Homo sapiens: one gene and its partner. The protein of the gene in region 1 interacts with the protein of each later gene in a biochemical or structural test. Each region holds a gene or a part of one and is shown in the gene's direction. Other genes may lie near its edges.

The links.
Region 2: the proteins of SNAP29 (region 1) and STX7 form a complex in vitro, tested with the Homo sapiens proteins (one study listed by BioGRID).

Annotation. Positions count from the first base shown.
Region 1 is NC_000022.11:20,865,507-20,869,328, forward strand, and holds part of SNAP29 (synaptosomal-associated protein 29), read left to right. Parts: intron 1-3,822. UniProt on the Homo sapiens protein: SNAREs, soluble N-ethylmaleimide-sensitive factor-attachment protein receptors, are essential proteins for fusion of cellular membranes.
Region 2 is NC_000006.12:132,446,970-132,450,791, reverse strand, and holds part of STX7 (syntaxin-7), read left to right. Parts: 3' UTR 1-3,822. UniProt on the Homo sapiens protein: May be involved in protein trafficking from the plasma membrane to the early endosome (EE) as well as in homotypic fusion of endocytic organelles. Mediates the endocytic trafficking from early endosomes to late endosomes and lysosomes.

The DNA of each region.
Region 1 (3,822 bases):
ACCTTGCTTTGCTGACCAGGAAACATGCTGTGACAAGCTGAGCGGCCATCTGCTATACAGCTTTCTGCCTCTGAGGTGTTCTTAGAGTGGGAAGTGTTGTAGGGAGGTGTTTGGGGGTTCCCAAGACTACCCTCAACTTCACTGATTCACTGGAAGGATGCACAGAACTGTTACACGTATGGTGATGGTTTCTTACAATGAAAAGATGCTGATTAAAACCATCAAATGAAAAAAGTGCATAGGGCAGCGTCCAGGGGAAACCAGGCACAAGCTTCCAGTTGTCCTCTCCCCATGGAGTCATGTGGACAACACTTCTCCAAGCAGTGCGTGACAACACACACAGAGTATTGTCAACCAAGGACCCTCACTTAAGCCTGGGTGTCCAGAGTTTTTTGGGGAGTCTGTCACATAGGCATGGCTGAGTATAGTCTCCAACCCCACCAGAGGTCAAGCTGATAACGTGTAGCCCAAGGCCACCATCATATATCACATTGTTAGCATAGTCTGTCTGACCTGGTCTAAGCTTAGGCTCACTTGAGCAAGGACACTCTTATCAGGCAGGATATTCCAAAAACAAGGAACCAGGCTAGGGCCACACCTCTCTTTGGAATGTGGAGTGTATGGACAACCCAGAGCTGCTGAGCTAGCCTTTTGCTCAGCCCCAGGTTGGCCTGCACACAGACGGCGAGGGGCACCAGCACTACCGCCTTTGCCCTTGGTGGTTTTTCCTGCACCCTAAGACCCGATTTGTCTCTGAATCCACCCCATACTCCAGCTGCCACAGTCAGAGCCCCGGGTTTGAGCATCTGCCATGGGTGCTCACGTATCCCTGCCAAGGCTTGTGCCTGTGCACACTCCCTTGGGAAGGGAGAGATGGAACAAAGATAAATTTCAGATTTCTAGATTCAGCTCACTGACTCCAGATTGGCCTCCGTCTACTTATGATGAACCTCATTTATCAGAACCTGAGTTTACGAGCTCAGTATGAGAAACACAGTATTGATGCCCTTCCGTCAGGAACCTGGGGAGGTCTCGGTCACGGAAGCCCACCTGATGTTATAAGATGTGTTGGCTGCGAGTTGCAGTTGAGATCTGTTGGTCACTGCTGCCCTTTGAAGGCCTTAGTGACATCCTGTGGGTGTTCCCTGCCGAGTCCTGTGGGTAGCCCCGCTCACTCCCCACACGGTTCCTCTGCCCCTGCACAAGCTGCACCCTCTGCCTGGTGCCCTTGCCCCACCCCAACTCTTCGTTGTGATTTGTTTTTAGGAAAACTAAGTCCAAATGGACAGGACCCCCAACTTTCTGACTGCCTAACTTCTCAGTCTCTCCTCCAGCCTCAACAGGGAGCCTCTCTGACCCCCACCTTAAGCTAAACAAAGAGTCTGCAGGGAGAGGTGACTCTGTGTGTGTATGTGTTTGTGTGCACGCGTGCAGTAGCTTTAGTTTCTGCCTCCCCCACAGGACTGTAAGCTCAGTGAAGCAAGGACTCATCTGCCTTTCTTGGATTCCGAGCATTGCAATGTTGTCAACAAATGAAAAGCTGAGATTGAACCTCACTCATCTTGCTCTCTGTTAGACTGTAAACACCATCAGGACAGAGACTTGGGATTGTTTCGTGGACAAAGAGAGAACTCTTGTTGGGGTTCAAGGGAGTAAGAAGGGCATCACCTGTAATGCTTAGTAATCACTGAAACAAGGAAGCACTTTGCATGTGCGTCCTTTACACTGAGGGCACCTGCGGAGCTCACTCCCCTAGCAGCCACCCAAGTCCGTTCAGGGACCTCATTCTCCCACGGGAAGTTGGAGAAGATGGGCCGTGGCTCTGCGGAGGGGGGTGTGGACCTGCCTCGGTACCTGGAGCGGTTGAGGCCTGTCTTGGTGGTGGCTGGGGCACAGGTGTCTGCCTGGCCTGTCCTTACAGACTGTCAGTGTTCTCTTTCCTGGTATTTTGGTGTTTGCTCTGTCAAACCCTTCTTCCTCATTGGTTGGAACTAGGTCACAAGCACATTAAGTCCGGTCATTTCCTCTGCCTTCTGGGGGTGGATTTTAGCAGAAGAAACAACTCCTCCCTTGCTGGCCTCATGACCTCTGGTGAACACTAGCTTTCAGCAAACAGAAACTTCCAGAGGCCAGAGCAGCACTCAGTCGCCTGGCCTTCCAGCCTCACAGGCAAGATAAGCCACCCTCACAGACTTCTCTGTGCTCCCATCTAAACATCTAAATCAGCCATCTGGTTTCCTTAACAGTAGCACAGACTCTGGGAGTTTGAGAGAATGTGTCTCTTGTGAATAAGAGAAAATAAGTCCATACTGGGGAAGGTAGCTCTCCAAATTGAGATGAGGAGGTCAGGGTGGGAGGGTGAGTGGTCGTGGGTTGGCCCTGATGGGAGGAGCTCACCATCAGGGAAGCTGAGGACCTCCCTCCTAATGTGACAGCAGAGTCTTGGCCACCTCTTCATTCCCCAGTCCCCAACCTGGCTGCTCTGAGTGTCTTTCCAGCTACTGGAAAGCTTCTTCTGCAGCCTGCAAAGCTAGCTGGAACTGGACTGTCAGAAAAACATGTAGATGCTGGAGAAAATCTGTTAATCCTAACGTATAGCTCTGCCTTATTCCAGAGAAGACCGCAGTGTGGACATGAAGATGATAAACTTGAGGTGATGGAAGGAGCAGAAATGCCAGATACATTAGCAGCTCTTTTTTCTTTTGAAAACTAGCCCTTGCAAGATTTGCTTGACATACTGAGTGACACTATCCAGAAAACATCTTTTTTTTACTTAAAAAAGGCTGATGGTTTGTTCAGACATCTCTTGTGAACTAGTGAAAAACATAAACGTTGAAAGCTGTAAAATTCAGCAGTTCTAAGTTTATTTCCAGCAAGAGTTAAACAAAGTTTAATAGTAAATTCAACCAACCAGTGTTTTAGCTTTTTGCCTATACATTATGTTTTTAAATTTCACCCATTAAACAAGGACTCAGGTTACACATTGATTCCTTAAGGACTTTAAGGAAGCCACAACCATTTATTTATAGTTGCATTTTGCTCTTCAGGTTTCCAGGATGTTTAAAATTTTTTTTGACTTTGTTTTTAGGCATCAAGAGAGAATATATCTAAAAAACATTTGCATAGTTAGTGTAATTGCTAAGCCACAGGGTGATGGGTGGATAGATTCAGAGGAAGGCAGCTGAGGGCAGAGGCTGCCTGACAGAGCAGGAAAAATGAAGCTCGAGAGCCTTCTGGCTGGAAAGGCAGCTCACAGATGGGCCGCAGCTGTAGATCAGTTCTGAACTAGGGACTGAAGCAAGTTTGTCGTAAATAAAGGAAAGTGGTAGTGTTGATGTTGTGAATGTATATCCACAACCAGAACCATCAGCTCTGGAGGGACCATCAGGCTGCCACTGTGGCCACAGAGCATCACTCACGTCTCCATTGGGCAGATTTGCAGAGACTCAGCAGTGAACAGAGCAAGTCCCTGCCTCGTGGAGCTCATATGCTGTGAGCGGTGGCTCATGCCTGTAATCCCAGCACTTTGGGAGGCCGAGGCGGGTGGTTCGAGACCAGCCGGGCCAACATGGTGAAACCCCGTCTCTACCAAAAATACAAAAAACTAGCCAGGCATGGTGGCAGGCGCCTGGAATCCCAGCTACTCAGGAGACTGAGGCAGGAGAATCGCTTGAACACAGGAGGCAGAAGTTGCAGTGAGCTAATATCACGCCACTGCACTCCAGCCTGGGTGACAGAGCAAGACTCCATCTCAAAACAGAAAAGGAGGTGGAGAAGAGGGGTAGTGGTTGGAAGAAGGAATTCTCCTTTAGGGAAGATGTC
Region 2 (3,822 bases), on another chromosome or scaffold:
TAGTTCCGTAAGTCCCTGAGGTTCTGTTCATCTTTGTTCTGCCTGTTTTCTTCTGTTGTTCAGACTGTGTAATTTCTATCATTTTATCTTCAGATTTATTCATTCTTTCTGCAGTAGCTTCCATTCTGCTATTGAGCCTATCAATTAAGTGTTTCATATTGATTCCTGCATTTTTCAATTTTAAAATTTCTGGCCCTTTACCGAAAATGTTGGTTGACCCCTGGAGTATAAACCTATACTATAGAAGAGAGTATCAATTTTTTTTTTTTTGAGAGGATCAATTTAAACAAAAGTTGGTCTCTTTAAATAAATAAAGTACACATAACTTGGTGAAACCGATTTGGAAAAAAACAGAAGACATAAAAAATTTAGGAATGAAAGTACAGATAAATAACCAAACATAGATTTTAAAATAATAAGACACTATAAACAACTTTATGCCAATATATCACAAAACAGAAAATGAATAATTTATATGAAAAATGCAAATTACCAAAATCAACTACGAAGTAGATGATTTCTGCTTCCTGCCATATGGTTGACTAGGTATACTCAAGGATCCTCCTGCTAAAATACAGTTAGTTCTTGGATAAAATACAACACACATAATATTAGTTCATTTCCTGGCTCATTAGAAAGAAAGATAATCACTAAAGGCTATTACCAATGAGAGTGGGCTAAAATTAAAGTAGTTGAGAAACAGGAAAACTGTGCCTCTGAGACTTAAGCCATGGACTCCAGGCAAAGTAAAGAAAGTGAACCTAAGATTCCTTCATAAAACCAGGAATGCTTTAAAGCATTAAAGTAGTCCTAAGTCAGTGGACTCTGGTGGTTACTCTAAGAAGTGGATGAAAATCCCCTCCGAAGGAAAGCCTCCCTAATTAATGCTTCTAGATTAATCAAACATGCAAGGAAACACACCATTTGCATTGAGAAACAGTAGATTTAGATATTCAAGGAATTCAGGTATTGCAATTAGCAGAAGTAGAATAACAGTTATATGTTTAAATAATGTATGAATTAAAACGAACATGAAATGAGAGATGTGTTAAAAGGCAGATATTAAAAAGAACCAAAGACAACTTAGGTATGAAATTTAATTATTGAAATATATAACATAATGAATGGTTTAAGAGCAGATTCACCACAACTAAAGGAATTGTTGACTATCAAGTTTTAACTGAGGAAACAACATATTGCAGCAAAAACAGGTAAAGGGATAGAAAATAAGAATTAGAGATTATGAGACCTGAAGGATAGAATGGGAAGGTTTAATATGTGCTGATTGGAGTCTAAGAAGTAAAAAATAGAAAAAAATTGAGGTAATTGCTGACAAATTTCCAGAGCTAAGAAAAGCCTGGGACCTGGTATGGTGGCTTATGCCTGTAATCACAGCATTTTGGGAGGCCAAAGCAGAAGGATCACTTGAAGCCAGGAGTTTGAGATCAACCTGGGAAATGAAGCAAGAGCCCCCACTCCATCTCTACAAAAAAAATTAAGAATTAGCCAGATGTGGTGACATGAACCAGTAGTCCCAGCTACTTGGGAGGCTCAAGTGGGAGGATCACTTGAGCCCAAGAGTTTAAGACCAGCCTGAGCAACATGGTGAAACTCCATCTGTACAAAAAATACAAAAATTAGCCAGGCATGGTGGCACACACCTGTGGTCCCAGCTACTCAAGAGGCTGAGGAGGGAGGATCACACGAGCCCAGGAGTTCAAGGCTGCAGTGAGCTATGATGGTGCCACTGTACCCTGTCTAAAAAAAAAAAAAGTGGATCCACATATACAAGAAGCAAAATGTATATCAACCAGGAAAAGGAAGCCAATGTATATTCATTATACTCAAACTTCAGAACAATAAAGGCAAAGATATCTTAAAAGCAGCCAGAATAACTTATCCACTTTTAAAGGAATAACGAATTGACAGACCTTTTTTTTTTTTTTTTTTTTTTGAGACAGAGTCTTGCTCTGTCACCCATGATGGAGTGCAGTGGTGTGATTTCTGCTCACTGCAACCTCCATTTCCCGGGTTCAATTGATTCTCCTGCCTCAGCCTCCCGAGTAGCTGGGAGTACAGGTGTGCGCCACCACAACCTGGCTAATTTTTTTGTATTTTTAGTAAAGACGTGATTTTGCCATGTTGGCCAGGCTGTTCTCGAACTCCTGACTTCAGGTGATCTACCTGCCTTGGCCTCCCAAAATGCTGGGATTAGAGGCATGAGCCACTGCACCTGGCCAACAGTAGACTTTTCAGTGCCAAAACTGGAAGGCAAAAGACAGTGGAATAACATCATTAAGGTACTGAGAGAATAACTCAATAGAATGAGTGCCCAGTGAAATTATCTTTCAAAATCAAGGGTATATTAAAAACACTTTTTTCTCAAAATGAGAATTTACAAACAAGGGACTTTCACTTAAGAATAAAGATGAATTTTAGAGTACAGCAAAATGACTAGGAGGAAAGTCTGAGATGCAAGAAGGTATGGTGAGCTAAAAAATCAGTAATCATGGGAAATGTAAATAAATACTGTCTATATTAAGAAGTATTTACTCTGTGGAGTAAAAAAGAGCGTAATTAAAATACTAGCAACATTTTACATAACTCAGGAAATGTATATGTGGGGAAAGTGTCCGGGAGCACTTAGAAGTTAGTGTGAGTGCTCCAAGATCCTGATACTCTTTAGGATGGAAGTTAAGATAATGAATGACTTTAGATGTTGTTAATCTAAGTACTTAACAGAAAATTTTCAGATAACCTTTAAAGAATAGCAATACAATATAACTTTCAAACCAGTAGAGAGGAAACATTCTGAAATAAGGGAAAAACACTTTAGAAATCCCAACTTTGATAGACCACAAAAATGCAAGAAGGAAGAAAAAGCATAGAAAAAGCAAAGAAATGGCATAGTATATAATAAATGGTTACAATAAATATAAATTGCCTATCTCACCAGATTAATAAAAAAAAAAGTCTACCTTGTTCAATATATACAGTTTACAAAAGACAGTACAAGGACAGAGAAAGACAAAAAGTAGAATTAGGGAAAATAAAACAAGCAAATATACCTGGTTAGGATAGCTGTATCAGTATTAGCCTTACAAATATTAAAGTGAAAAGCATTAATAAGGATAAGGAGACTCTCAAAAATAATAAAAATTTCAACTGAAGTAGGTATAACAGTTCTAAACAAAGTTATTAAAGTAAAAATGTAGAGGGCAAAACGGAAAAAAAAACTATTATGTTGTATTTGAAGTCACTCAATTTTTAGCTCGAGCAGCAAAAAAGTAAATAGAACAACATGGTAACCAAAGTTGATTCAATTAATACATAAAGGATCATGTTCCCCCAATTTAGAGCATGTGCATATTTCTTAAGCATGTATAAAAGATTTAGAAGGAAAATGATAAAGGAATGTTTTGGGGACCTCTGATAGGGAAAGATTTCTTAGAAAATCTGCAAAAGATATTAACCATAATCTACATAAAGTCAACTGTTTTATTTCAAGCCTCTCTGGAAATAGTTTTGTTGACTGATAAGAAACGCTCTATGTCAGTCAGCTAATCAATGTCTAGTGAGTCTAACTCTTTCCACTACACAGTAAGTTCCATCTTAGGGTGTTTTACTTAAAAGCCTGGTGTCAAATGTTACACGCACAAAAACTTATTAGTATCTTTTTAACCAATGTATCTTAGGAGATACGGAATTATTTCTAACACACTGGTTGTATTTACTAATTTTCCGCTGAGCCATCATAAAAATAGAAGTCACATCGTCACTATTTCTTGCTTGTCCAACCCAGTGTCTATGGTACCCTCGGCA